3 separate regions of the Homo sapiens genome follow, and regions 1 and 2 are each linked to region 3. The links come from fine-mapping of genetic effects on gene expression. A gene starts in region 3. Each other region holds a variant in brackets. All regions are shown on one strand. Distances are between the middles of the regions. Region 1 overlaps ZNF670-ZNF695 (ZNF670-ZNF695 readthrough (NMD candidate)). Region 2 overlaps ZNF670-ZNF695 (ZNF670-ZNF695 readthrough (NMD candidate)). Region 3 holds the start of AHCTF1 (AT-hook containing transcription factor 1).

Evidence for each region. PIP is the estimated chance that this variant, and not a neighbour inherited with it, causes the effect.
Region 1: its variant is fine-mapped to the expression of AHCTF1 in whole blood (TOPMed, PIP above 0.99).
Region 2: its variant is fine-mapped to the expression of AHCTF1 in whole blood (INTERVAL, PIP 0.99).

The regions. Positions count from the first base shown.
Region 1 is chr1:246,958,141-246,968,374 of GRCh38, forward strand. ZNF670-ZNF695 (ZNF670-ZNF695 readthrough (NMD candidate)) reads right to left here. Exons shown (of 7, transcript NR_037894.2): 6 at 9,555-9,652. It also overlaps a transcript of ZNF695 not described here. Among named protein-coding and RNA genes, the nearest start is that of AHCTF1, 31 kb to the left of the region's middle. RefSeq lists enhancers at 4,183-4,342, 4,393-4,442. The variant C/T (reference allele first, on the strand shown) is at 3,925.
Region 2 is chr1:246,945,858-246,956,091 of GRCh38, forward strand. The region is part of intron 6 of ZNF670-ZNF695 (ZNF670-ZNF695 readthrough (NMD candidate)); the gene reads right to left. It also overlaps a transcript of ZNF695 not described here. Among named protein-coding and RNA genes, the nearest start is that of AHCTF1, 19 kb to the left of the region's middle. The variant G/A (reference allele first, on the strand shown) is at 6,486.
Region 3 is chr1:246,926,529-246,936,762 of GRCh38, forward strand. AHCTF1 (AT-hook containing transcription factor 1) reads right to left here and starts at 5,420. Exons shown (of 36, transcript NM_001323342.2): 1 at 5,050-5,420. RefSeq lists enhancers at 4,543-4,632, 5,753-5,802 and a silencer at 4,973-5,072.

The sequences.
Region 1 (10,234 bases), 32 kb after region 3:
CTCCGCCTCCCGGGTTCACGCCATTCTCCTGCCTCAGCCTCCCGAGTACCTGGGACTACAGGTGCACACCACCACGCCCGGCTAATTTTTTGTATTTTTAGTAGAGACAGGGTTTCACCATGTTAGCCAGGATGTTCTTGATCTCCTGACCTCGTGATCTGCCCTCCTCGGCCTCCCAAAGTGCTGGGATTACAGGCGTGAGCCACTGCACCCAGCCGGGACTTGTCTTATGATTGCCCCAGTATTGAAGTTTGGCAAAAAGTCACAAAATATGTGACTTTGAAGGCTAGGTCATAAAAATGAAGAAACCTCCATTTATTTTTCCTTCTCTCTTGGGATCCTTACCCTTAGAACTCAGCCATCACATAGTAAGGAGACTCAGGCCACAGACAGGTCTAGTGAGGAATTCTGGCTGACATCCTCAGCTAGTCCCCAGCCATGAGCAAGCATCAGCTGCTGTCATGATCCTGAGTGAATGATCCCTCAGAGTCCAGGCGCCAGCCTTTGAGTCTTCCAGCTGATATCCCTGACAATGTGGGTCAGAAACCAGCCATCCATTCTACGCCTGGTGTGAATTTCTAACCATGGAAACGGTGCGAGATAATACACGATGTAACGCATGATTGTTGTACTTTAAGCCACCCCATTTTCGGGTGATTTGTTATGCAGCCATAGTAACACGCGGGGACAGTGAAGTCCTCTAAGGTGAAAAGTGTGTTTGCTATTGGTTTAAGAAAGCGAGTGCCACTCACGGGGAAGAAGAAGTGTCTTGTAAATTATCACTAATCTCCTCAGATGTCAATGAATCAGATACTGTAAATTATCCTTACTCTCCTCAGATGTCAGCGAATCAGATACTGTGTCTTGGCCAGGTGCGTTGGCTCACACCTGTAATCCCAGCACTTTGGGAGGCCAAGGTGGGATTGCTTGAGGCCAGGAGTTTCAGACAAGCCTGGGCAACATAGCAAGACCCTGTCTCTACAACAAAATTTAAAAATTAGCCGGGCATGTACCTGTAGTCCCAGCTACTTGGGAGACTGAGGCAGGAGGATTGCTTGAGCCCAGGAGTTTGAAACTGCAGTGAGGTATGATCTCACCACAGGACTCACTCCAGCCTGGATGACAGAGTGAGACCCTGTCTCAAAAAAAAAAAAAAAAAAAAAAAAAAAAATATATATATATATATATATATATATATATATATATATATAAAATCTCTTTTCTGAAAGAAGCATTTAAATGTTGAAAACACATTATCTGCTTATTCTAGAACCCAAAATGGGCATTTTTTTTGTTTTTGTTTTGAGACAGAGTCTCACTCTGTTGCCCAGGCTGGAGTGCAGTGGCACAGTCTCGGCTCACTGCAACCTCCACCTCCTGGGTTCAAGCAATTCTCCTGCCTCAGCCTCCCAAGTAGCTGGGACTACAGGCGAGCGCCACCATACCCGGCTAATTTTTGTATTTTTAGTAGAGATGGGGGTTTCACTATCTTGGCCAGGCTGGTCTCGAACTCCTGACCTCGTGATCCACCAGCCTCAGCCTCCCAAAGTGCTGGGATTACAGGTGTGAGCCACCGTGCCTGGCCCAAAATGGGCATATTTTTAGAACCTAGACTATTGAGCTTGTCACTTTTTCTTACAATGTGCCACATTCTGCACCAATGATGCAGGAAATTAACAGCTAGATGTTCTTAGTTCTCCCTCTCCGTGGCGGTTCTGAAGATAGGCGGTGAAAGTGGACTGTTCCTCAGAAGCAAAAACTCTCCAGTGTTTCTGATCCATTAGTTCCGTAGCAATGTATGAGTTTTCATAACTATGGTTATGTATTTTGGTAAGCTGCTATCTTCATGCAACAGTCAATTTCACTGAACTTCATTTCCTCTAAGTATGTTAGATTACATATTTCACAATGTATTATTTGAAACAAACCAATCTCATTGAAAAACCCAGTTGAGAAGCTTCATGAATAATTTAACTGCTTGCTTTTCCTCTCAGATTTCACACATTTTGCCACGTCATTATTTAAGGAAACTTTCTCATATTGTAATACTTCCTCTTTTCTATTCAAAGAAATTGTAAACATATCAGCAAAAAGGGAACCACAGTTTTATCTGGAACACTAATATATTTAGAGTGAACAACACTGCCACCCTAAGATTTCCCAGTAACCTAGATGCATTTTGCTGTACTCAAGCAGGCTGATATGATTGCAGTTTGGGGAAAAATTTATATTATATAGAGTGTGGTTTCTTTTGGAGTGGTTTGCTAGTTTCTCCAATGCTGTTTGTCATATATGTAAAAGTAAAAACAGTTGGTATTGTGTAGCAGTATAGAATACTACCTATGTTCTCTCTCTATATATATGCCCCAGAGAACCATTTGTTTCCATTCAGAGTGATAAGGTTATACAAGACCTACTTGGCCATGCAAGACAAGTTCTTTTCTTCATTTCTGTCTACAAATTCAGATCATTTCTCCATAGTTCAAGATAGCTATCTATCCTTCAAAGAATGGTACAGGCCAGGCATGGTGGCTCACACCTGTAATCCCAGCACTTTGGGAGGCTGAGGCCGGTGGATCCCTTGAGCCCAGGAGTTCGCGAGCAGCCTGGGCAACATGGCAAAACTCTAGAAAAATATAAAAATTAGCTGGGCATGGTGGTGCTCACCTGCAGTCCCAGCTACTTGGGAGTCTGAGGTGGGAGGATCACCTGAGCCTGGACTGGTTGAGATCACGCCACTGCACTCCAGCCTGGGTGGAGACCCTGTCTCAAACAAACAAACAAAAAACAAAAAACAACACAAAGAATGGTAGAGAGAGCTGTAAAAGTAAAGAATCTATGAAGGTCTTTTGAGCTCAAAAATGTTTCTATTTCAATTATCATTTAAAACATGTTCACTATGAAGGTGGGCTTCCTGACTTGATTCACTCATTGAAATTCATAGTAGGGTCAGTTGATGACCAAGAAACTTAGCTATTTCAAAATCATGGGGTATAAGTCTTAACATCAAATAATGCATATGTAACTCAAACTTCTCATCTTTAGCATCATCAGTTCAAAAATTATATACGTTACTCCACTAATTAGGCATAACACTTCATTAGAAGTTATATATGCATTCAAAGCCACCTCCAGCTGCACCAGCCTATAATGAGCTGTTTATTTGTTCATGTGACAATCTTATATTGCTACCTATTATTTCATGTGCACGTAGATACTCGATAAAGTCTTTTAAAATGAATGAATGCAAATCTTCTGCCTCCCACAGTGCCTGTTCTTAAATCCTAAGCCCCATTATTGCTACTCCCTGCCACCTCCATTCCATAAACTGCAGGGCCATTGTTCTATAAGCTGCTTGAGTTTAAGAGTGTTGCTTTCACAGCTCTCTTCATACGTACAGGAAGGCTCTGCTTCTCCTTCCCAAGACACTCAGGGAATCTTTCCAGGATGCTTCCCATTCACTCTACTGAATTCACCTACTCCCTCTTGCTACCTCTGCTTATAGTATTTTGCTTCAGACCCAATTGTCACCCACTGGTCCCTGAGATAGGCAAAAGATGCTTTAGACTATTTTCTTGGGTGCTGCCCTCGGGCTCCACATCCTGCAGCCTGCCTCATTCCCATTCTGGAAGGGAGTTCAGATAGCTTGAACTTAGTAGTAAGGGTGATCTGACTCCTGTGATCATTGACTTCAGTGTTCACCAGGCTGCTTAGCAAAGGGCCCTCTTCATCACTCCCTTCATCATTCAGTTAAGGGAAAAGATCTCAAGAACGCAGAGGCATAGAGAGGCACCTCAATGGCACTGTGCTTTGCAGACATATGAGTTGTCATGGCAGACGGTGGTGGTGACGATCACTGCTGCCTGTATCTTTATAACCTTAGAGAAATCTGAACTTCTCTTTAAGGAAATCCATGTGTAATTT[C/T]CTTCTCTGGTTGCTTCATAGGGCAGTCAAGGCGGCAGGAAGCCACAAAGCCCTGGCTAACAAATTAAAGCAATGTTTATATGCTAGGCTTGGTCTTTCCTAATGAAGGAGAGGCTGCTGACTAGTGGGGCTCAGGTCAGACTTCCTGTCACCAGCTGGGCTTGCACACGTAGGGAACACTGACGAATGGCTTGGGCTTTGTGCCCCATCAGCACTGGGCCCTCATGGCCCAGTCACAGGAATATGGCTAGCAAGGCAGCACGACTGCTTTACACCAGAGTTCAGGGAAAGGCATCACATCCCTCAAGCCACCCAAGCAAGAAGTCTGGTGGTCGTCCTAGCCTCTTGCTCTGCCTCATACCTCACAGACGATTTGTTTACCACGTCATAAAGATTTTACTTCTTAAATACCTCTCAAATCCATCCCCTTTCCTCTCAATGGCTCTGGCCACTGACTTAATTCAGGTCCTCATCATTGATCATCAGAGTTACTAAAATGAGAAGCAAGTGGCTTCCGTGGGGCTGGCCTCTTCACCTCTAAGCTGATGTTTTCTGCAAGAGTGATCTTTCTAAATTACTAACATCAGATTTCATCACCTCTCTGACCCCCTTCTGCCAGCTTGAAACCTTTCTTTTTTTTTTTTTTGAGACGGAGTCTCGCTCTGTCACCCAGGCTGCAGTACAGTGGCACGATCTCAGCTCACTGCAAGCTCCACCTCCCAGGTTCACGCCATTCTCCTGCCTCAGCCTCCCGAGTAGTTGGGACTACAGGCACCCGCCACCACGCCCGGCTAATTTTTTTTTGTATTTTTAGTAGATAACCGGGATGGTCTTGATCTCCTGACCTTGTGATCCGCCCATCTGGGCCTCCCAAAGTGCTGGGATTACAGGTGTGAGCCACCATGCCCGGCCTTGAAACCTTTCAACGATTCCTCGCTGCCTTTAGGCTGAAGTCCAAACACCTTAGCAGGCAAACCGGCTCCTGTCTCTTGCCACCTTTCTCCATGCCCCTCATTCCAGCTATATTCATCTAATGTCCATTTCCGATCATGTCACACTCCTTCTGCCTTTAGTGCTTTTCCATGCTATTCCCTCATCCGGAAGTGGCCATCCTTCACTAACTAGCTCACCCCTGCCACTGCTTCTGCATTCATTTATTCATGACACGTTTACTAAAGGTGACTGTGTGCCAGCCACTAATCTAGGTGCTGGGCATCAGTGAATCAAACAGACAAAACTGGCCATGTGCAGCGGCTCATGCCTGTAATCCTAGTACTTTGGGAGGCTGAGGCAGGAGGATCACTTGAGGCTAGGAACTGGAGACCAGCCTAGGTAACAGAGTGAAACTCTGATTTTACAGAACATAATAAAAAGAAAAATAAAAAACAGGCAAACTTCCTGACTTGTAGAGCTTCCCTTCCAGTGGTGGTGATGGTGGTGGGAGGGGAGGAACAATGAAGCGAACAAACAAGTAAATTCTACGCTAGATGACAAGACAAGTGCTATGGAGAATAATCCGGCAGGGAAGAAGGCTGGCAGTGCCAGAGCAGGTGCGGGGGTTATTGCGATTTTAAATGGAGTTGTGTATAATAGGAAAAACCAACTGCTTTCTCTTCTACAGTCATACTTGTCAGAGAATACTTCCTCTCCGGTTGCTAAAATGTGTGTGGAGTTTTCCCCACACCGACCAATTCTCCAACACCAGCTGGGTGATCTACAATTTAACTCAATCCTGACACTATGTACCTGGAGTTAGAGTCAGATTGCACAGCTTAAGGACTTAGTCCCACAAGACTGCCCCTACTTTAGATGCCAGTCACAAGCCCCAGGCTGTGACCCGTGTTCCTGACTGACAGGCTGTACACTGGAGTTCCCATGGTGCCCTCCTTGGATTTGATAATTTGCTAGGATGGATCACAGAACTCAGAAAACCACTTTATTTATGTTCACCTGTTTATTAGGAAGGATATTACAAAGGATACAGATGGACAGCCAGATGGGAGAGATGCATTGGGCCAGGTATGGGGGAGGGGGCAGGTGGCTTCCACGCCCCCTCCAGGGTGCATCGCCCTTCCAGCACCTCCGCGTGTTCAGCAGCCCGGAAGCTCTCCAAACCCCACAGTTCAGGGATTTTCATGGAGGCTTCATCACATAGGCACCACCAATTACTAACTCAGGTTTCCGCCCCTCTCCCCTTCATGGAGGATGGGGAGCTGAGCTGAAAGTTCCAAGTTTCTAATCATGGCTTGGTCTTTCTGGTGACCAGCCCTATCCAGGAGCCCACCAAGAGGTGCCCCATGAGAAAAAAAGACGCTACTATTACCCAGGAAATTCCAAGTGATCAGGATCTCTGTGTCAGGAACCAAGATCAAAGACCAAATATCAGAACAAAAGATTCTCCTAACGCCCCTATTACTCAGGAAATTAAAGGGTTTTAGGAACTCTATGCCAAAGGACTGGAGACAAATATTGCTATGGTTTGAATGTTTGTCTCTTCAGAAACTCATGTTGAAACTTAATCCCTGGCTGGGCCCAGTGGCCCATGCCTATAATCCCAGCAATTTGGGAGGCCAAGGCAGGTGGATCACTTGAGGTCAGGAGTTCAAGACCAGCCTGGCCAGCATGGTGAGACCTCATCTCTACTAAAAATACAAAAATTATCCGGGCATGGTGGCATATGCCTGTAATCCCAGCTACTCAGGAAGCTGAGGCATGAGAATCACTTGCACCCAGGAGGTGGAGGTTGCAGTGAGCTGAGATCGCGGCACTGCACTCCAGCCTGTGCAACAGAGTGAGTGAGACTCTGTCTCAAAAAAAAATTTAATAAAAAATAAATTAGAAAATAAAAACTTAATCCCCAATGTGGCAGTACTGCAAGATGGGGGAACTTTATGGGGTGATTGGGTCGTGGGGCTCTGCCCTCATGAATGGATTAGTCTGCTCATGGATTAATCCATGGGTTAACAGATTAATGGTTTATTATGGGAATCAGACTGATGACTCTACAAGAAGAGCAAGACAGGCCGGGCACGGTGGTTCACGCCTGTAATCCCAGCACTTTGGGAGGCCCAGGTGGGCAGATCACGAGGTCAGAAGGTGGAGACCATCCTGGCTAACCCCGTCTCTACTAAAACTATAAAACATTAGCTGGGCATGGTGGCGGGCGCCTGTAGTCCCAGCTACTCGGGAGTCTGAGGCAGGAGAATGGCGTGAACCCGGGAGGCGGAGCTTGCAGTGAGCCGAGATAGCGCCACTGCACTCCAGCCTGGGTGACAGAGAGAGACTCTGTCTCAAAAAAAAAAAAAAAAAGAAGAGCAAGACAGACCTGAGCTAGCACGCTCGGCCCATTTGCCATGTGATTTCCTGCGCTGCTCAAGATTCTGCAGAGTTGGCAGGGCATGGTGGCTCACGCCTGTAATCCCAGTACTTTGGAAGGCTGAGGCAGGCCGATCGCCTAAGGTCAGGAGTTCAAGACCAGCCTGGCCAACACGGCAAAACCCTGTCTCTACTAAAAATACAAAAATTAGCCAGGTGTGGTCGTGTGTGCCTGTAGCCCCAGCTACTCAGGAGGCTGATGCAGGAGAATCGCTTGAACCCGGGAGGTGGAGGGTGCAATGAGCTGAGATCGTTCCACCGTACGACCATACGAGCTGAGATCGTGCCACCAGCCTGGGTGACAGTGCAAAAAACGAAGAAAGAAAAAGAAAAAAAATTCTGCAGAGTCCCCACAGCAAGAAGGCCCTCACCAGGAGCAGCCTCTCAACCTTGGACTTCTCAGCCTCCATAACTGTAAAAAATAAATTCCTTTTTGTTTATATACCTTGTTTCAGGTATTCTGTTATAAGCAAGAGAAAACTAACCCAGAAAATTAAAAATATATATATATTTTATATATATATCTTTTTATAAATCACAATATCACAGGTAGTCAGGGAGGCCTCAGTGAGAGGGGACATTTGAGCAAAGACTTGAAGAAAGTGAAGGAGCAAGTCATGTGAGTATTTGGAGGAAAATATTAAGAGAAAAGTTAAGAATAAGGGCAAAGAGCCTGGGGCAGAGGCATACTTCAACTGTGAAGGAAGTAGAAAAAGGCCAGATGGCCTGAGGACAGTGAGCAAGTGAGAGAATAAAAGTCAAAGTGAGGTCGGGCGCGGTGGCTCACACCTATAATCTCAGCACATTGGGAGGCCAAGGCAGGCGCATCACTTGAGGTCAGGAGTTTGAGACCAACAAGGCCAACATGTTGAAACCCCATCTCTACTAAATATTAGCTGGACATGGTGGCAGGTACCTGTAATCCCAGCTACTTGGGAGGCTGAGGCAGGAGAATTACTTGAACCTCAGAGGTGGAGGTTGCAGTAGGCCAAGATTGCGCCATTGCACTCCAGCCTGGGCGACAGAGCAAGACTCCATCCCCCCACCAAAAAAAATTCAAAGTGAGACGGCACAGTGAGTCACACCTGTAATCCCAGCACTTTGGGAGGCTGAGGCAGGAGGATCACTTGTGTCCAGGAGTTCAAGACCAGCCTGGGCAACATAGCATGAACCTGTCTCTACAATTCTTTTTTCTAATCAGCTAGGTATGGGGGCACATTCTTGTAGTACTAGCTACCCAAGAGGCTAAGGTGAGAGATCGCTTGACCCTGGGAGTTCAAGTTTACAGTGAGCTATGATCACATCACTGCACTCTAGCCTGGGCAAAGAGCAAGACCCTATTTTTAAAGGAAAAAAAAGTCAAAATGAGAAAGTTGTGGGGAGGTCCTGTGAGCCACTGCAAGGTTTTACTCTAAGTGAGATAGTGAGATGAGGAGTTATTGGAGGGTTTGAACAGAGGAGTTACATATTAAATAAATCATATTAAATGTTACTTTTTTTGTTGTTTTTATTTTTTGAGACAGAGTTTCACTCTTGTCGCCCAGGCTGGAGTGCAATGGCGCAATCTTGGCTCACCACAACCTCCGCCTCCCAGGTTCAAGGAATTCTCCTGCCTCAGCCTCCCCAGCAGCTGGGATTACAGGCATGCGCCACCATGCCTGGCTAATTTTGTATTTTTAGTAGAGACGGGGTTTCTCCATGTTGGTCAGGCTGGTCTCGAACTCCCGACCTCAGGTGATCCGCCTGCCTCGGCCTCCCAAAGTGCTGGGATTACAGGTGTGAGCCACCACACCCAGCCTAAACGTTACATATTAAAAGGATTATATATTAAAAAGCCACTGGATTGAGAATAGATTGTAAGAAGACAAGGGTAGAGGCAAGGACAGCTGTTAGAAGACTGTTGCAAAACCCCAAGCTAGAAATGCTGGTGGCCTGGACAAGGGTGGGAGCAGTAGAGGTGGCAAGACATAGTTGAATTCTGGATATAGCTTAAAGGTCAGATAGGATCTCCTAATGGCATGAATGGGGGATAAAAGAGAAAAAGGGGTGACAAGGATGATGTCAAGGTTTTGGGTCTGAGAAACTCTAAGGATGAAGTTGCCACTAGCTGAGATAGGGGAAGACTTGCAGGGGCAGGTTTCAGGGGAAGATCAGGAGTTTTGACCTGGCCTTGTGTATTAATCCATTCTTGCATTGCTATAAAGAACCACCTGAGACTGGGTAATTTATAAAGAAAAGAGATTTAATCAACTCACGGTTCTGTGGGCTTTACATGCTTCTGCTTCTGGGGAGGCCTCAGGAAACTTAGAATCATGGCAGAAGGCAAAGGGGAAGCAAGCACATCTTCACATGGCTGGCAGGAGAGAGAGAGCAAAGGGGGAAATGCTATACACTTTTAAACAATCAAGTATCATGAGAACTCACTCATCATGAGAACAGCAAAGGAGAAGTCTGCCCCCATGATCCAATTACCTTCCCACCAGGACCCTCCTCCAACATTGAAGATTACAATTTGACATGAAATTTGGGTGGGGACACAGAGCCAAACCATATCATTCCACTCCTGGCCCATCCCAAATATCATGTCCTCACATTTCAAAACACAATTATGCTTTCCAAACAGTCTCCCAAAGTCTTAACTCATTTCAGCATTAACTCAAAAGTCCAAGTCCAAAGTTTCATCTGAGATAAGGCAGTCCCTTCTGCCTATGAGCCTGTAAAATCAAAAGCAAGTTAGTTACATCTAGGATACAATAAGGGTACAGGCATTGGGTAAATGTTCCTGTTCCAAAAGGGAGACATTGGCCAAAACAAAGGGGTTACAGGCCCCATGCAAGTCCGAAACCCAGCAGGGCAGTCATTAAATCTTAGAGCTCCAAAATAATATCCTTTGATTCCATGTCTAACATCCAGGCCACACTGATGCAAGGGGTAG
Region 2 (10,234 bases), 19 kb after region 3:
AAGGTTCCGAGTAGCTCCTTGGGATATGATTTATGCTGAGGTGTTAAACCGGTTCTGATTGAAGACTTGGTTCCATTGGAGAAGTCTGTCTGTCCCTTGCCATTTCAAATTCACGCAGGTGTGAGCCACTGCGCCCAGCCTCTGAGAGGTTTTAGATGGCAAAAAGATGAAGCAATCTAAAGTTATACGATAGTTCCATAAATACGGGAGGTTTGAGCTTTTATTTTTTAGCTCATTGTCTTTCCCCAGAAGGATGTGCAATGAAAATGCTCCCCGTGCCACACCGGCTGAGGCTATCATCCTCCCGCCGCTGCATTTTAGTCCTTTGACCTTCCTAATCCCACGTCCCATCCCATCTTGATTGCTTTCTGATTTTTCTTGAGTCTACCTATCACTATATGACAGAGCGTCTTCTATCTACACCATGAAAATTTCTCCCTACAACGTGACTGTACTTTCATTCTCTTCCAAAGCCTTTGCCTGTTCTTGCCTTGCCACTTTTCTGAACCACGTGGTCCCTATTATGTTCTCAATTCTTATGCGGTCTGATTTCTTACTCATTTTTAGCCTTCTGATAAATTTTCATACCCTCTCGGACTTTTACTTATTTCCTGGCATTTTATGTAGCCAACAATTGCACTCATTTGTGAAGGTTGAAAGGAGGGGTGATGAGCGAGATGGCATCTGGCTGGCAGCCAGGCGGGCCCTCTCCCGGTGACAGCACCACAAACCTGGCTCCAGTCTTGCTCTTGGAGAAAACTTGGTCATGCCAGGACTCCTAGAGCTCATCTGTCTCAAGGAGACTGACTTGTGGGAACCACAATCCTAAGAAGTGTATCTAGAAACCAAAATTCTAACTTACTGATTGATAATAGTGGATATTTCTTTGCTTTAACTGGGATTCCTGTAGGCCTGATCCAGAGAATCCTCTCTTCAGATAGTGAGATGTGTGGGAAACCGAGTAATCAAAATATGGCTTGGTGAACATGAAATCAAAGAGTAGGCTGTGCGCGGTGGCACACGCCTGTAATCCCAGCACTTTGGAAGGCCAAGGCAGGCAGATCACGAGGTCAGGAGATCAAGACCATCCTGGTTAATGCAGTGAAACCCCGTCTCTACAAAAAATACAAAAATTAGCCGGGCGTGGTGGCGGGCGCCTGTAGTTCCAGCTACTCCGGAGGCTGAGGCAGGAGAATGGCATGAACTCGGGAGGTGGAGCTTGCAGTGAGCTGAGATCGGGCCACTGCACTCCAGCCTGGGCGACAAAGCGAGACTCCGTCAAAAAAAAAAAAAAAAAAATCAAAGAGTAAATGGGGTGATAGGGTTTTTTATTTTTTTTGGGGGGGTGGTTTTTTTTTTAGAGACAGACCCTCCCTTTGTCGCCCAGGCTGGAGTGCAGTGGCCGTTCACAGGCACTGTCATGCCTGTCATATAGTGTGCACCATAGCCTCACACTCCTGGGCTCAAACAATCCCCCTGCTTCAGCCTCTTGAGAAGCCGGGACTATTGGCATGCACCACTGTACATGGCTTGTGGGGATTGTTTTGAAGGTTTGGGAAGCCTGGTGACTCACAATTGCCTCTCAACAGAGAACAGTCTGTTCTAGATCAACACAGCCAACTCTGGGTCTCCGACTTCCTTTCCCGCACTACTGCCATTCTAAGCACAAGGTCATTCCACACAGGGCAGAGTACAACAGATTTGGGTTTTTGCTGATGAAGCGACAATCAGGCTTTTCTCCCTGGCATTGTTTCTGGGACACTGTGAGTGGTATATCGGGCGTTTCCATGCATCTCAACCACACGTTTATTCACAGTCTCTTGATTTAATCCCACGGATGGATAATTCTATCCATAATGGGTACAGACATCACTTGTTTTATTTTCAGAGGACAATCTTATGTCTTACTTTAATTTCTGGTGCTCACCTCCATGAATTACCATGTACCAGTATCACAGCCTTCTATAATTCTAATGGAACATTTAAGTAGCTATTGTTTTTCTAATATAATATACATGCTGCAAAATTATTGCAAGGAACGGGACAAGGAAAGCCCTGTGGCAGGAGAAAATTCTGCAGAGTTGTTTGCTGAGGCCATGATTTCATTCCTTGAATACTGGAAGGATAATGTGGTATTGGGAAAGAGCACAGTTTGCTTGGAATTCTGTCTCCACACTCATTACCTGTGAGGCGATGAGTGACGTCGTTGACCTTTTCTTTTTCTTTTCTTTTTTGAGACAGGATCTTACCCTGTCACTCAGACTGGAATGCAGTGGCGTGATCTTGGCTGACTGCAACCTCTACTTCCCAGGCTCAAGCAACTCTCCTGCCTCGGCCTCCTGAGTAGCTGGGATTACAGGCACTCACCACCACGCCTGGCTAATTTTTGTATTTTTAGTAGAGATGAGGTTTCACCATGTTGGCCAGGCTGGTCTTGAACTCCTGACCTCAAATGGTCCACCCTCCTCAGCCTCCCAAAGTGCTGGGATTACAGGTGTGAGCCACCACGCCTGGCTGTAGTTGACCTTTTCTAAGCCAATGCCACTCCAAGTGTGGATCCCAAACTGTCTGTACGAGGCTGCGAGGAGATAAGGGGCTTGCACCAGAAAATAAAATGAGCCACGCCACTCAACACACTACTTAACTTGGCTGACTTTTTTTCCAAAGTCAGACTTTCTCAATGAAGGAAACAGTACCTTGATTTACATTCTGTCCCAGGTTCCTTGGCAATAAAATTGGAAAATAATACTAACTTCACAGGGCTGCCACTGTAGAGATTAAATTAATGGTGTTGCATGAAAAGTGTCTGGCACGATGTGTGTACAATAAATAGTTGTTTTAGTGTGTCTGAGTTGCACAATTTAGCACTAAGAGCAAACTTTTCAAGCAAGTTTATAACCAGCAACAGGCTCATAGAAGACAAGAGAGGTAAGAGGCTAAGGGCTTTATACCCTGCCATTCGCCTCATTGCTCTGAAGACCCTAAGCCTTGCCTCTCCCTAAGCATCTATTCCCTCATCTGTAAACTGGAATAATAATAGCGCCCACCTCACAGAGCTGTTCTGAGAACGAAATTACATACCCTATGTACAATACCTAGAATACTGCCAGATATTTAGTAGGTGTCTGATGAATATTAGTTTCCTTTTTTGCACTTCAACAGCATTGAGGATGCTTTCAAGAATATTTGCATGATATTTAAGGAAACAGCTATCACATGCAAAACTTTTCTAATGCTAACAGCAACTCCAGAACTCCAGAAAAGAATTAAAGATTGGAGTAATGAAACAGAAGGACCCTGCTGGTAAAAATGAAAACAGGAATACCATATGATGGTATTTTCTTTTAAAATTAATTCTGTGAGAGGCAGGTGGAATTTTTAGCTCTGGTTCAATCCATTTATGTTGGATCTAGTGAGACTAGTATCTCCTCCTAAAGAGCTCTATCTCTTGGGCCGGGCCTGGTAGCTCACAGTTGTAACCCCCACACTTTGGGCGGCCGAGGCAGGCAGCTCATCTGAGGTCAGGAGTTCAAGATCAGCCTGGCCAACATGGCGAAACCCCGTCTCTACTAAAAAGACAAAAACTAGTCGGGCATGTTGGCACATGCCTTTAGTCCCAGCTACTTGGGGGGCTGAGGCAGGAGACTCGCTTGAACCCAGGAGGTGGAGGTTGCAGTGAGCCGAGATCATGCTACTGCACTCCAGCCTAGGCGACAGAGCAAGACCCTGTCTCAAAAAAAAAGAAAAAAAAAAAAAGAGCTCTATCTCTTGAACCCTGGGGTTTCCTTCCTGACTGAGCTGCATGTTCTTATTCTTACAGGTTCCCAACAGTGACTGATCTTTCCACCTCATCAAAGGTCCCTTACTTCCCCACGCCTTCTTGTTATTGAGTTTGTGGTCAGTGTGACTTTTTGAGATATAATTTTTTTTACTTTGCAAACAAATGGAAAAGACTAATTACTTTTCTTTTATATAGTATAACCATCAATTACATACTAACAATTTTGTATGTGTCTTTAAATATAATCGTATAAAAGTGACATTCTGTAGCAGGAAAATGTATACAGAATTAATTCGGCTTCAGATTTACGGCTTAAGTAATATTTTTATTATCTTATGCCACAGAAGAGATATTTGTGTCTTTATTTTTAAAGTGGCTATGTGCCTCATTTTACGAAATAAAATCTTATTGTACTAAAGTCATATACTAGGCTTCAGTTACTGAAAGCCAAAGGAGGTCATGAGTTCCTGATGTAACTCACCAAAGAGCCTACGGATTAAAAGGAGAATATGTTTCCCCACTTTTATCTGGTTGCCTCCTGCTTTTGCTTAGTTTCATAATTCGTGACCTTTTGGGAGAAAGACAAAATTGGTGTGTGCTTATGACCAAGGACTATGCTTGAATATACAACTAGGAAGGCCTCTCAAATGGTTTAAAAATAATTACTGAAAAGATTCAGACTTGCCATTCTTTTTGATTATATATAATCCTTTAAAAATAATCCACCCAGGCCAGGGGTGGTGGCTCACGCCTCTAATCCCAGCACTTTGGGAGGCCAAGGTGGGCGGATCACCTGAGGTCAGGAGTTTGAGACCAGCCTGGCTAACACGGTGAAATTTCATTTCTACTAAAAACATAAAAAATTAGCTGGGCGTGGTGGCACGCTCCTGTATTCCCAGCTACTCGGGAGGCTGAGGCAGGAGAATTTCTTGAACCCGGGAGGCAGAGGTTGCAGTGAGTAGAGATTTCGTCACTGCACTCCAGCCAGGGCAACAGAGCGAAACTCCGTTTCAAAAAAAAAAAAAAAAAAAAAAAAAAATCCACCCAATATAGAAACAAATGACAATTACAGGGATTTGTAAAGCTATTAACATTTCATTGCTCTCCTGGCTCTGTCTCTTCCTAGTTGAGCAGCTTTGGACAAGGTACTTGACCACTCTGTCTCGGTTTCTTCATTTGTAAAATGCAAAATGACAGTAGTTTCATCCTCCTAGGATGACTGTGAAAATTAAATGAGTAAACTTGTAAAACAGTAGCTATTCTTATGACCACTCCAAATTGAAAAATATCAAACAGGTATACCCTGTTCCTCCAAAGTCATGTCAACTTGTTTACTATCAAACAATATACAGTTAGTAATAAAACAAAGGTATGACTTCATGTCCCTTTTGTTACAGAATGAGTGCAATTCATATTGTAGGAATATTGTGCTTTTTACTCAGTTTAAGTGTTGTCATATAGTTGGTCTGAAATGGAGGCACCGAGACACCCTCAGTATGTGTCATTATGTCATCATTATAAAAATCACCCTAGCCCTTGGGCCTGGACTCTTGGTCTCTGTTATGCGCTGAACTGTGTTCCCCAAAAAGGTATGCTGAAGTCCTACCCCCAGTATCTCAGAATGTGACCTTTTTCGGAAATAGAGGCACTGCAAGTGCAATTAATTAAGTCGTCATGCTGGAATAGGGTGGGTCCTCATACAATCAGAAGGGAAAACAGACACGGAGGGGAGATGGCCACGTCGAAGGTGGTGGAGGTTGGAGTGATGTTGCCACAAGCCAAGGAATGTCTGGGGCTACCAGAAGCTGGGCGAGGCAAGGAAGGATTCTTCCCTAGAGGCCTTGGCAGAAGTCAGGCCCTGCTGACACCTTGATTTCAGACTTTGAGCCTCCAGAACTGAGATAATACATTTCCGATGTTTGAAGGCACACCATTTGTGGTGTTTTGTTATAGCAGCCTTAGGAGACTATTACACGCTCCTAGACCAGAAACTAGAACAAAGAGGCAAGTCTCAGGTCAACCACAGAGGCCCTGGTCCTTAGCTACAACGATCCAAATTGTCAGGAAAGCCAGCTTCTGTGTGGAAGATCCTTCCTGTGGGAACTGCTGAGACCTGGTAAGCCAGGTGCTGGCACAGCTGGGCCAGCCCTTTGGGACTAGAAAGGGATAGAATGAGCCCCATAGGCTTTGTCAAAGAGGTTTCCCTGACCACCCTACCTAGAGTGCACCTTCTCCCCCCGCTCTTTGTCCTCTTACCTTGCTTTTTCTTCACAGCACCAGTTCATCTTTGTTTACTGTCTGGCTTCCCAAGTACCACTATATATTTTTGAGACAGGGTCTCGCTCTGTCGCACATGCTGGAGGGCAGTGGTGTGATCTTGGCTCATGGCAGCTTTGACCTCCCAGGCTCAGGCGATTCTCCCACCTCAGCCTCCTGAGTAGCTGGGACTACAGTCGTATGTTACCACATCTGGCTAATTTTTGTATTTTTAGTAGAGACAGGATTTTGCCTTGTTGCCCAGGCTGGTCTCGAACTCCTAGCCTCAAGTGATCTGCCTGCCTCGGCCTCCCAAAGTGCTGGGATTATAGGCGTGAGCCACTGTGTCCAGCCCCCAAGTACCACTTCTACCACCAGAGTGGAAGCTCTATGAAAACAGAGACCACAGATGATAATTTCAAATTTTCTTTAGTGTCCTTTGTATTTT[G/A]CACAGGTGATTTAAACATTTTATTTATTTTGTGTCTCCTTGCAGTTTGCAAGTTGTTTTCCTCTTTAATCAGAAAAAGGATATTAAAAACTGTAAGCTTTCTATAAAGTTTTGTTCACAGTTCATATCTCCAGCACATATTAGGTATTCAATGAATATTTGTTGAATGAATGACTAGAATAAATAATGTTATGCTTCTTCTTCTTCTTTTTTTTTTTTTTTGAGGCAGGGTCTCACTCTGTTGCCCAGGCTGGAGTACAGTGGTGCAATCACAGCTTACTGCAAGCTTGAACTCCTGGGCTCAAGTGATCCTCCCTCCTCAGCCTCCTGGGTAGCTGGGACTACAGGTGCATTCCAGCATGCTGGTGTTATGCTTCCTTTATTCTCCATATTTAATTCATCTTTTATTCCTCAACAGTATTCAGCAACTTCTTTTCAGAAACTATTGATTTTTGGCCAGGTGCAGTGGCTCACATCTGTAATCCCAGCACTTTGGGAGGCTGAGGCAGGAGGATCACTTAAGCCCAGGAGTTCAAGAGTTCAAGACCAGCCTGGGCAACATAGTGAGGCCTTATCTGTATAAATTTTGTTTTAAAAAAGAAATTATTGCCAGTCTCAGCCACAATGAAGGAAACCTAGGAAAGGATGTGACCCTACTTGAGCCACAATTTAGAAGGGCATGTCCACCCCACAATCCTCTGAGGTTCCCAATGGCTGGACTGTAATACTTCCCTAGGCTTTCGGTGTAATACTAAGTTTGTTCTACTCTACTAGATATTTTCTTGTCATACGCTCAACTTCAGGCCTCCTTTGGAGGGAGGCTTAAGGGAACATTGGCAGATTCCAACGTATTTAAATAATTAACATGACATTCCTAGCTATTGTTTTATTCATTGATGAATTTTGGAATGTCATTACAAATTGTAAATTTGGACCTAGATGCTGATTGCTTATTTTCAGAAAACCTACAGAATAACCTCAGTAATAAAAACAAAGTGGGCCACGCCTGTAATCCCAGCACTTTAGGAGGCCGAGGCGGGCGGATCACGAGGTTAGGCGACCTAGACCATCCTGGCTAACATGGTGATACCCCGCATCTAGTAAAAAAAATATAAAAAATTAGCCAGGCGTGGTGGCACACGCCTGTAGTCCCAGCTACTCGGGAGGCTGAGGCAGGAGAATCGTTTGAACCCGGGAGGCAGAGGTTGCAGTGAGCCAAGATCGCACCACTGCACTCTAGCTCTGGGTGACAGAGCAAGACTCCATCTCAAAAACAAACAAAAAAACAACAAAGAAATGGGCCCTGCGTAGTGGCTCACGCCTGTATCCCAGCACTTTGAGAGGACAAGGTAGGTGGGTCACCTGAGGTCAGGAGTTCAAAACCAGCCTGACCAACGTGGTAAAAATACAAAATTACTACTAAAAATACAAAAATTAGCTGGGCATAGTGGCAGGCACCTGTAATCCCAGCTACTCAGGAGGCTGAGGCAGGAGAATCACTTGAACCCAGGAGATGAAGGTTGCAGTGAGCTGAGATCACGCCACTGCACTCCAGCCTGGGCGACAGAGTGAGACTGTCTCAAAACAAACAAACAAACAAGCAAAAAAAAAAAAAAAAAGAAACCCGAAAAACAAAGAAGCCTAAAAACTCAGGGTAAGTGTAGAGCTTGGGACTCTGCTAAGACTCAACAGTGCCCTAGAGGATAGCCATTCAGTATTATCATAAATCCTCAAGTCTTCCATTTTGCCATCCTTAAAACAACTGTTTCTGAGCACAGGGACACTGGCACATGAATGAACGAATGACTTCAGTTTGTCCTCAACTGTCTTGCCAATCAGGCCAACCTTAAAGCTACAGAAGGAGATTGTCCTGAATTTCCCTGAGAGCCAACGGCACTAACAACTGTTAAACCAGAAGAATAAAAACCCAAATATTGGCACACACTCCCCAAACATGTTGTCCAGCAGTTGAAAGCCAAGGACAGGAACAGGCAATGCCTGCCAGCTGTTCCAGGGGAAAGGGTCCAAACTGATCTTAGACTCAGCTTTGCTTGAGTTCAGCCCGAATTGCTGGAGAAGATCCACCAACCTTCCAGTGGCCTAAGATTGATCCAAAACTGGCAGTCACCGTTCCCCAAAGGTGATACTATTATTTCAGCTCTCACAAGAAAACCCATGTAACTGGAAGATGAAGAACAAAAATCAGGATAACACAAGATTCTGATTGTCTTGTCTAATGTACAGGATTTGGAATCAGGCTTCTATATATGGAAACCATGTGTGTCTAGAGCCTTAAGTTTCATGCAAATTCCTGTAAAATGATCACTGATCAGATCATCTGTAAAAATGTGGAATCTGGATTAGACGATCTCTCAGGCCACTTCCAGCTCGAAACTCTGACTTGCTATCTCTATATTCTTATAGGGTTTTCTTGCTCACTAAGTTTTTAGGAAAATAATAACTGAGAAAATAAAAATTTAATACAGTCATACAGTCATCTCAGGATACATTCTGAGAAAATCATTGAGTGTACTTACACAAATCTATATAGTATAGCCTACTATACACCTAGGCTATCAGGTAAGGCCTTGATATGGTTTGGCTGTGTCCCCACCCAAATCTCATCCAAATCTCATCTTGAATTGTAGCTCCCATAATCCCCACGTGTCATGGGAGGGACCTGGTGGGAGGTAATTGAATCATAGGGGGAGTTTTTCCCATACAGTTCTCACGACAGTGAATAAGTCTGCACGTGCTTTCTTGCCTGCCACCATGAAGATGTGCCTTTGCTCCTCCTTCACCTTCCACCACGATTGTGAGGCCTCCCCAGCCATGTGAAACTGGATCCATTAAACCTCTTTTTCTTTAAAAATTACCCAGTCTTGGGTATTTCTTCATAGCAGTATGAAAATAGACCAATACAGGCCTATTGCTCCTAGGCTACAAACCTGTACAGCATGTTACTGTACTGAATAGTGTAAGGAAATCATCACACAATGGTAAGTATTTGTGATAGAAATTTTTCAGCTCTATTGTAACCTTAGGGGATCACTGTCGTCTATGAGGTCCATCATTGACTGAAACTGTTATGCAGTGCTTAACTGTATTATGTGACAAAATGTGTATAAGTAATTTTATTTAATTAAGAGTAGAAGCTCTCCCGCAGTGTTCTCATATACTCTAAACTCTAAAATTATCATTCTACTCAGTATTGCTGATCTCTTCATTGAGCTTGTAAACAAACACCTACACAGAACAGAACTAATTAATTTTAATCTAAATCCATTTTCTTTTGTACAAAGGAGGCTTTTTCCCCAAGATTTGTTTCAATCCTTTAGCCTAAAATGATAACGCCCTATATTTACCTAGCGATGTTAACTTTTCAAAGTCCGTTCTTTTCTACCATCTCTCTAGAATGTAGGCTCCTAAGAGTACTACTGTCTTCTGGACAATGTCCAGCACACAGAAGGTGCTCAGTGAGTCCCAGCTGAAGAAAGTGAATATGATGCTCACAAGAACTCCCTGGGTAGACAACGGTCTCATCACTAACCCCTTACTTGACAGATTTAGGTACGGAGGCACGGGAGCCAGATGAGGACATTAACCAAAGATACCCACATGCCAGATATTAGTTTGGATTGGATTTTTTTTTTTTTTTTTTTTTAAGACAGAGTCTTGCTCTGTAACCCAGGCTAGAGTACAGTGGCATGATCTCGGCTCACTGCAACCTCCACCTCCTGGGTTCAAGC
Region 3 (10,234 bases):
AGCACACTACAGAGAACATCGAAACACTCTATTATTAGAAATAGGGGCCAGGCGCGGTGGCTCACACCTGTCATCCCAGCACTTCGGAAAGCTGAGGTGGGTGGATCACCTGAGGTCAGGAGTTCAAGACCAGCCTCACTAACAGGGTGAAATCCCGTCTCTACTAAATACAGAAAACTAACCAGGTGTGGTGGCGCATGCCTATAATCCCAGCTACTTTGGGAGGCTGAGGCAGGAGAATCACTTGAACCCGGGAGGCGGAGATTGCAGTCAGCCGACACTGCACCATTGCACTCCAGCCTGGGCAACAAGAGCGAAACCCCGTTTCAAAACAAACAAGTCTCAAAACAAACAAAAGTGTATGGCCGGGCCGCGGTGGCACACGCCTGTAATCCCAGCACTTTGGGAGGCTAAGGCGGGCGGATCACGAGGTCAGGAGATCGAGACCATCCTGGCTAACAAGGTGAAATCCCGTCTCTACTAAAAATACAGAAACAAAATTAGCAGGGCGTGGTGACGGGAACCTGTAGTCCCAGGTACCCGGGAGGCTGAGGAGGGAGAATGGCGTGAACCCGGGAGGCGGAGCTTGCAGTGAGCCAAGATCGTGCCACTGCACTCCAGCCTGGGCGACAGAGCGAGACTCTGTCTCAAAAAAAAAAAAAGAAAGAAATAGGCCAGGCACTGTGGCTCACACCTGTCATCTCAGCACTTTGGGAGGCCAAGGCGGGAGAATGGCTGAGGTCAGGAGTTGGTTAGAGACCAGTCTGGCCAACATGGTGAAACCCCGTCTCTACTAAAAACAAGAAATGTAGCAGCCAGCCACGGCTGCATACGCTTGTCATCCCGACTACTTGGGAAGCTGAGGCATGGGAATCGCTTGAACCGGGGAGGTGGAGGTAGCTGTGAGCTGAGATGGTGCCACTACACTCCAGCCTCAGCAACACAGCCTGACTGTCTCAAAAAGAAAAACTATATTATTAGAAAGAATATCTCATATAAAGGTATATGAAAACACAAACACACATGAAACACCTACGTTCAGTACTGTACAAAATTAAACAGAATCCCAGCCTTTTATGACATGCCAGCACTGGCAACCTATAAAAAGTAATTTACTAAGTTTCAATTCCTTTCCAAAGGCTAGATAGGCAGAGCAGGAACGTTCTACTGGCTTTGAATGAAGATACTGTTCATGGCCGGGCGCGGTAGCTCAAGCCTGTAATCCCAGTACTTTGGGAGGCCGAGGCTGGCGGATCACAAGGTCAAGAGACCCAGACCATCCTGGCCAACATGGTGAAACCCTGTCTCTACTAAAAATACAAAAATTAGCTGGGCGCGGTAGCGCGCTGTAGTCCCAGCTACTTGGGAGGCTGAGGCAGGAGAATCGCTTGAACCTGGGAGGCAGAGGTTGCAATAAGCCAAGATCACGCCACTGCACTCCAGCCTGGCGACAGAGCAAGACTCCGCCACCAAAAAATTAATTAATTAATTAAATTAAATACTGTTCGGCCGGGTGCGGTGGCTCACGCCTGTAATCCCAAGGCAGGTGGATCACGAGGTCAGGAGATCGAGACCATCCTGGCTAACACGGTGAAACCCCATCTCTACTAAAAATACAAAAAAAATTAGCCGGGCGTGGTGGTGGGCACCTGTAGTCCCAGCTACTGGGGAGGCTGAGGCAGGAGAATGGCATGAACCCGGGAGGCGGACCTGGCAGTGAGCCGACATCGCGCCACTGCACTGTAGCCTGGGCGACAGAGCGAGACTCCGTCTCAAAAAAAAAAAAAAAAAAAAATTACTTCTGCTTGCCTGTCTTCTCCACTACACTATGAATTCCTAAAAGGCAAAAATCACCAAATCTTATTCCTGGGCATTCGACAAGGTCACAGTGCCTTTGGACTAACAGGTCCTAAATGTAATAAATTAGGATAACAGGATACTGTATAGCAGGATATTATTAGGATACTAGCAGAGACAAGAAATAGGCATGTTAAACAATAAAATCAATTTTTTAAAACTCAAGATTGGGCCCAATTATTTTTAAGTATACACTGGTTCAGTATTAAACAAAACAAAATTCTTAAAATTACTAGGCCAGATACTAAAAACAGAATACTATAAATCAGTTTTCTGTGTGAAATACACAAATTCCTGCAGTAACTGAATTCCACCACAGAAAATGGAACTCTAATCTAGTTCAACAATTATATTGCAACATGTACCAAGCAAACATTTCTATAAACCACTTTGTATGCAATGGTACTTTTTTTCTTTTTGACTAATAAAAAGACGAATTGTCATTTAAATGTAAACTACCAGTGGACCCAGAAACTTCAAGCCTTTCAGAAATTTCTTACCAACTTAATTCAAACATTTTAAAATCACAAACTACTTTTAAAACACCGTGTTAGTAAAGGAATGCAAGGTCAAGAAGATAACCTTCTTCCTGACTTTAAGGAGTTTACAATCTAGAAAAGGAGATATATAGTCAATTATCAGAGTATCAGACACAAAGAATAAATGCTACTACAATAGAGGTACATATGCTGTGAGATCCCAGTAAAAAAGTGGGATAAGGGGAAATAAAAGAGTACAGTGGGCTGGGTGCGGTGGTTCACGCCTGTAATCCCAGCACTTTGGTTGGCCGAGGTGGGCAGATCGTCTGAGCTCAGGAGTTCGAGATCACCCTGGGCAACATGGTGAAACCCCGTCTCTACTAAAATACAAAAAATTAGCCGAGTGTGGCGGCGCGTTCCTGTAGTCCCAGCTACTCGGGAGGCTGAGGCACAAGAATCGCTTGAGCCCTGGAGGCGAAGGTTGCAGTGAGCCAAGATCACGCCATTGCACTCTAGCTTGGGCTACAAAGTGAGACTCCGTCTCAAAAAAATAAAAATAAAAATAAAAATACAGTGAAAACATTGGATTTAGAAGGAGGACCTGAAATTTGAGTATTTAAAAAAGGAAAGATGGCACTCCAGGATGAAGGACATGAGCAAAGAAACATCAGAGTGGAAACATCTCTTCCACAGAATGAGTCCAGGATTGATGACGATTCTGGAATAGCAAAAGCATAAAATTTGTTAACATATGAGGATAGACAGTAGCATATACTTATTGTAGAGACCTTTGAGCTAACCGAGGGAAGTTACACTTCATTCTGGGAAGAAAGAAAAGTCCCTGAAAATATTAAAGGTAGGCGTGAAAGACACAACGTTTTGCTTCCTCTTAAAATATATCTGTACCAGCCGGGCGCGGTGGCTCACGCCTGTAATCCCAGCACTCTGGGAGGCCAAGGCGGGCGGATCACGAGGTCAGAAGTTCAAGACCAGCCTGGCCAATATGGTGAAACCCCGTCTCTACTAAAAATACAAAAATTAGCCGGGTGTGGTGGCGTGCGCCTGTAATCCCAGCTACTCAGGAGGCTGAGGCAGGAGAATCGCTTGAACCTGGGAGACGGAGGTTGCAGTGAGCCAAGATTGTGCCACTGCACTCCAGCCTGGGCAACAGAGCAAGACCCCGTCTCAAAAAAAAAAAAAGATGTATCTGTACCTATGAAAAAGGAGAAGCATAAAAAGAAAACAAAAGTCTCAAAACTGATGTATAACGATCTTTTTTATTTTATTTTAGCAACAGGTTCTCGCTCTGTCACACAGGCTGAGTGCAGCGGCGCGATCCTAGCTCACTGCAACCCTCGAACTCTCAGTTTGAGGCTGAAGCTCAAACGTTCCCCCCGCCTCAGCCTCCCAAGTAGGCGCGCGACTAGAGGCGCCACCAATTCCCGGTTGACATGATGTTTTAAAAATTTTTTCAAGATAATTATTGTTGTTTGCAAACTCGTGACAGCTTGGTAGTATGTTACTGAAGGATCAGGATCCAAAAATCACAGTACAGAGACAACGTAGACTTCCCATAGCGCTTGGCACACTTAAAACATCCCTTCAAGTATTAACCTTAACTGGGCTTGTCATCCCAGGTCAAATCCTCCGAAATAAGTAAACCACTCTAATTTCTTCTCTCCTAAGAGACTCTATCAGTGAAAGCTCACAAAAAAACAGTTTAAAAAAAAAAAAGGGGGGGTCTCGCCATGTTGCTCAGGCTGGTCTCAAACTCCTGGGTTCAAGCGATCCTCCCGCCTCAGCCTCTCAAAGTGCTGGGATTACAGACAGGAGCCACTGCGCCCAGCCAAAGACAGTTCTTAAAATCTACAGGTTCTTTAGGATATTCTGAGAATAAATATCGTTTAGGATTTCCCCAAAGGATTTACGTTTTGTTCTATGAAGAACCCAGTTCTTCCAAAAATTTCTACAACTGACGATTTGGAAATAAAAATAACGCTCATCTCATAAAACTTTGCACACAGATAGTATGAACCTCGTAAGCTTTGAGAACAAAATTTCCCCATCTCTCAAAACAAAACACCCAAACCAAAACAGTCAACCAGTGGCAAAAGAAACCGTCCTGTTTCCCAGGTAGGAAAAAGGAAGGCAAAGCACCCCAAGATGTGCTTTTATTTTAAATCTCCTTGATCTGACCAATCGGGTGAGCTGGAACCTCACGGCTGAGCCCCGAGTCCAACTTCTTCCCCGCCAGGACTACTCACTGTGGCCAGGCCCAAGCGCATGTGGAACACACGCCAACACAGGACAGGCTCAGCACGCCGGCCGCTTCCCTCGGGGAAAGGCCCGCCAACGAGTCCATCGCGTGGGAGAACAGTGGGAAAGGGTCGCGGCCCCGGCCGTCCGTAAAGGGACCCGACTGCCGGCGCAGGACGCGAACCACCAGCGCCGCTCCGCCGCCATGTGCCGCCGCTCCTCCGGTCCGAGATTATGTAACGAAGCCCGGCGCCCGCGAGCCTGCCGTACCCGCCACCGCCACCGCTCGCCCCCTCGAGCCCCATCCGTTGGCCCCGCGCACGCCCGGCCTAGGCCCGGCGCTCGCGGGGCAGAAGCCCCGCCGCCGCCGCCGCCGCCGCCGCCGCCGCCGCGGGTCCAGGCCGCGCGACCCGCCCTCCGCCGCGCGGGCCCAACCCCCTCCCTCCCTTCCCCCTACCTGAACGGGGCGGGTGAGCGCGCCGCCGCGGGCCGAGTCCACCGGGTCGCCAGGCCAGGCGCGAGCTCCTCCCGTGCGGGTCCGTCACAGCATCTCCCGGGAGACGTGGCCGCCACGGGCCGGGCTCACACCCCTCCGCCCGGCTGAAGCCGCTCCTCTGCGCTCCGGCCGCCGCCTGCGACCTCCCCGGCCACCTCAGAGCCACACGCCCCCGAGAGTGCCTTCGCGGGCTGTAGGCCTGCAGACCGCTCAGCGGCTAAAACGCAGTCGCTGCTCCCGCCGCGCTTCTGGGTCCTTCCCCTTGCAACGCTGCCTGCTCGCCTCGGACAGCGCCGGCCCCGCTCTGCGCATTACCCTGCGCCGACAAAACCGAGTTCCACACGCCCCGGAAGGGAGGGAGCAGAGGAAAGGGCGGAGAGGGAGGGGAGAACCGGCGGGAGATCGCGGCTGCAGGGACCAGAGTTCTCGCGATGGTTCCGCGCTCTAGCGCCGGCTCCGCGGGAATTTTCAAACTCTCGGTGAAAGAAGGAGGTGGGAGGGAAAGGGAGGAAAGAGAAGCAGGGCCTGGAAGGGCGGATCATTTACAAAAAAATCGGGTCTCTCCGCCTCCGAGGAGCTGGTGGGGAGAAAGACTACGAGTCCCACAGTGCCTTGCGCGTGAAGCCGCCCTGGCGGCCCCGGCGGCGCGCCCCGTGCGCAGTTGGGAGTGGTAGTCTTCGCTGGGGGTCGCGCCGGGCTCTGCCAGCCGCCTGCTGCGATTGCAGGCGGACTCTCTTGTCACGTAATCGTGTGGCCCTGCCAGCTGGGGGCCGAGTGATAATCTTTCTCCCATAATTGGCAGCTTGCATTCTGTATTTTCTGTTCTGTGCTCCCACTTTTCTTTTTTTCTTTTTCTTTTTTTTGGAGACGGAGTCTTGCTCTGTTGCCCAGGCTGGAGTGCTGTGGCACGATCTTGGCTCACTACAACCTGTGCTCCCGCTTTTCATGCCAAAGGTGGGCTCCCAGACTTCTGGGGAAACGCTTTTTCCACGGTGCTGTTTTTTCTAGCATCCTCCTGTGCTTTCATGGCCAAAAATGCTCGCGCAGCCTAGCCTAATCTTTTTAGTCAAAATTTTACCCCAAATCACTGTTATCTTTTTGGTCACCGCGGGTTTTCATTGTGGAATTTCTTATTTCTTGTTAGTATCTTCCTTTGAAGCAAATCCCAGCGCCAAACATGTTTCAAACAGATAGGGAACGTATCCTTAATACTAAGTAGTAAGTAAAAGGATTATAACATGAGGTAGAGTAGGGATTTTAAGAAGATGCTCTTTTATCAGGAAAGTTTCTACTTTTCTGTTACCTTTCATATGTGCTTTTTAAATTTTTTTATTTTTGAGACAGTGTCTCGCTCTGTCGCCCAGGCTGGAGTGCAGTGGTGTAATCAAGGCTCACAGCAGCCTCGAACTCGTGGGCTCAAATGATCCTCCTACCTCAGCCCTCCAAGTAGCTGGGACTATGGGCATGGACCACCATGCGCCACTACGTCCCATTAATTTTTTTATTTTATTTATTTATTTATTTATTTATTTATTTGAGACGGAGTCTCGCTCTGTCACCAGGCTGGAGTGCAGTGGCACAATCTCGGCTCACTGCAACCTCCGCCTCCCAGGTTCAAGAGGTTCTCCTGTCTCAGCCTCCAGAGTAGCTAGGACTACAGGTGTGCGCCACCATGCCCAGCTGATTTTTGTATTTTTAGTAGAGACAGGGTTTCACCATGTTGGCCAGGATGGTCTTGAACTCTTGACCTCGTGATCCACCTGCCTCAGCCTCCCAAAGTGCTGGGATTATAGGCGTGAGCCACCGCGCCCGGCCTTATTTTTTATTTTTTGTAGAGACTGTCTCACTGTGTTACCCAAGCTGGTCTCTACTCCTGGGCTCAAGAGATCCTCCTGCCTCAGCCTCTCAACGTGCTGGGATTACAGACATGAGCCACCATGCCCAGCCTATTTTTATTTTTGTAGAGACTGTGTCTTGCTGTGTTGCTCAGACTGGAGTGCATGGCTATTCGCAGGCACTATGGCCTCATCAGTGCCACTGCTGCCTCCAACTTCTAGGCTCAAGCTATCCTCCCACCTCAGCTTCCCGAGCAGCTGGGACTACAGGCATGGATATCATGCCTGGCCCATATTCTTTCAGAGATAATGCTGCCTTTTGGAAATGTAATTTTCTTTTTTCTGTAATTTTTGTTTCTTTAGTAACAGCAACCTCCATACATATCATGTTTGTTTGCACAAGGTATTGGACCAAGTTGTGATAGAAACAGTTAAAAAGAGTACTGCTTTTGCAGTAGGAGGTTTGGGGTTCGTTGTCTTAATTATTTTAAAGAGATCTCTTCAAACAGAAACCACCCTCTGTTGGATGTGCTGATTTATGTCACATGCTCCATATTCTACACTTTCTTTGGCACTGTTTTATGCCCAGTTCATGAGTACTGTACCTCTCGATAGTCAGAAGACATGAATTATCAACTCAGGTGTGCTGCTAGTGAGCTGTGTGACATTAGGAAAATCAAGTGACCTCTCTGGGCTTCAGTTATCAGATGTGTAGAGCAAGGGATTGACTGATTCATTAGACAGATATTTATTAACTTTGCTCTAAGAGCCCTTCCAGTTGTGAAATTCAAAAATCTATTTTAATTGCACATATTATCCAGATTGACTGTCTACATAGTCTTTCAGATTTTAATCCTTTCCATCATTATCAACAGAATGATTTCTGTATCATTGTCTATATTTTTATTATTTACTTATTTTGAGACAGGGTCTTGCTCTGTTACCCAGGCTGGAGTGCAGTGGCACAATCTCGGGTCACTGTAGCCTTGACCTCCTGGGCTCAAGCAGTTCTCCTACCTCAGCCTCCCAAATAGCTGGGACTACAGGTGCATACCACCACTCCTAGCTAATTTTTGCATTTTTTGTAGAGACAGGGTTTCTTCATGTTACCCAGGCTGGTCTCAAACTTGTGGGCTCAAGTGATCTGCTGGACTCAGCCTTCCAAAGTGCTGGAATTACAGACGTGAGACACTGGCCTGGCCTGTGTAATTGTCCATAATCTAGACCAACTCTACCTGTCGTATTTTATTTCCCTATATAGTTCCTGAGCTTTGTTTTGTTTTGTTTTGTTTTTTAACTCTCCAAACCTGTTTTCTCTTTCAGTGTCTCCCAGCCTCTTCTCTCCCTGAGTAAATCTTAACATCCCTCAGGGGCCAGCTCAAGCCTCTTTCCTCTTCCCAATCTTTTCTTCAGCTTCAGCCCACATGAATCACTAAAAACTTGAGCGAAATATGCTGTCTGAATTGTTTCATGTCTGTTTCCCTTTTTGCCTCTGACTCTCTCCATCCACCCACCATCTCCATCTCCCAGCTGCACTGGGAGCACAGACTGTATCTTTTTAAAATGCTTCCCCCATAACTGCTAGTTTTTTATTTTAGTTGCTTTGCAAACTGAATTTCCAATTTAAAGCTCTCATTCAATCCTTTTTCTTCTTTCTTTCAGACATTTAACTAAGCAAATACCAGATTATTTTAATTGGTTTCAAGAGATGTTAATAAGTGTTAAATGAAGAAAAATCTAGATTTGGTAATCAAATGAGTTTGGGGGAAAAGCTGATTAAATAAAAATAAAAATGTATTTTCTGTAAGACTTCACTGGCTTTAATATGCTTGGCATTCCCCAGAGTTGCTTGACCATGGCATCCATTTGCACTTGTGTAACATCTTGCCTTATTAGTGCTTCACAGAACAGACTCTGGTAAACACGGCTTCAAAGCTTTCTCTCACTGGAAGAAGCATGTTGTGGTGAAAATAATGAAATCATTTGGAGCCAGACAAACTTGGGTTTACTGCGTTTCACTACTTTCTAGCAACATGACTTTTATGAAATTACTTCACTCTCTGAGCCTGTTTTCTCAGCTAAGAAGAAAAGATAATGTCACTTTCTTTGCAGAACTGTTGTAAAGATGAAAGGGAAGTACATGCCTTCCTTAGAACCTCATTCCGTTTTCACCTATATGGTCCTAAGTTATGTTGGTAAAAGGCCTAGAAATGGATAATAACTGGTACAAATCCTCATGCTTCCATCTGGAATATTTGATTCAAGAGACAATATTTTTAAAAATTTTATTTATTGATTGATTTTTGAGATGGAGTCTCACGCTATCACCCAGGCTGGAGTGCAGTGCAGTGGCATGATCTCAGCTCGCTGCAGCCTCCGACTCCCGGGTTCAAGCGATTCTCCTGCTTTAGCCTCCCATTGGGATTACAGGCCTGTGCCACCACTCCTGGCTAATTTTTGTATTTCTAGTAGAGATGGGGTTTCACCATGTTGCCCAGGCTGGTCTTGAACTACCGACCTCAAGTGATCCACCCGCCGTGGGCTCCCAAAGTGCTGGGATTACAGCATGAGCCACTGCACCCGGCCAAGAGGCAATATTTTAATACCATTCCAGCATCCTGGGAGTGACTAGCGGCCATCTGATTTCAGGGAATTCAGGACTTCATTGAAGCGTTCTGAGTTAGATCTCCAATTGTTTTGCAAAGTAACAGGGAAAGCCTTATTACTTTAACAACAACAAAAATGGAGCTTATCTGTCTCGAGCAGAGAAAACTGTCTTTGTCCTAACAGGTACATGTTCATCATTTTTGTGCAGTTGATTGGTTATAGCAAGCAGTGCCCACCCTTGATTTCTCCAATTGACAATAAACTAGGTGAATGAACAATCATATTTTTCCTGTTCCCCACTCTATGTCCAGTGATGGCACAATGGCCAGAGCGTAAATACTAAAATCATTGTCTAGTGACTGAGCAAATAATAATTCATCATTCAAAGCAAAATATGCAAAAAAAAAAAACAAAGCAAAATATGCCATATTAGATTATAAGGAACCTTAGAGATATTCTAGGCCAAACACCTTATTTTATAGGTGGTGAAATGAATTGTCAAATGATTTGCTACAAATTTTTTGGGATGGATTTTTTGTTTTGTTTAAAAAATAAGCCAAGTGCAGTGGCTCACAGCTGTAATCCCAGCACTTTGGGAGGATGAGGCAGGCAGATCACCTGAGCCCAGGAGTTCCAGACCAGCCTGGGCAATATGGCAAAAACCCATCTGTACAAAAAATACAAAACTTAGCCGGGCATGGTGG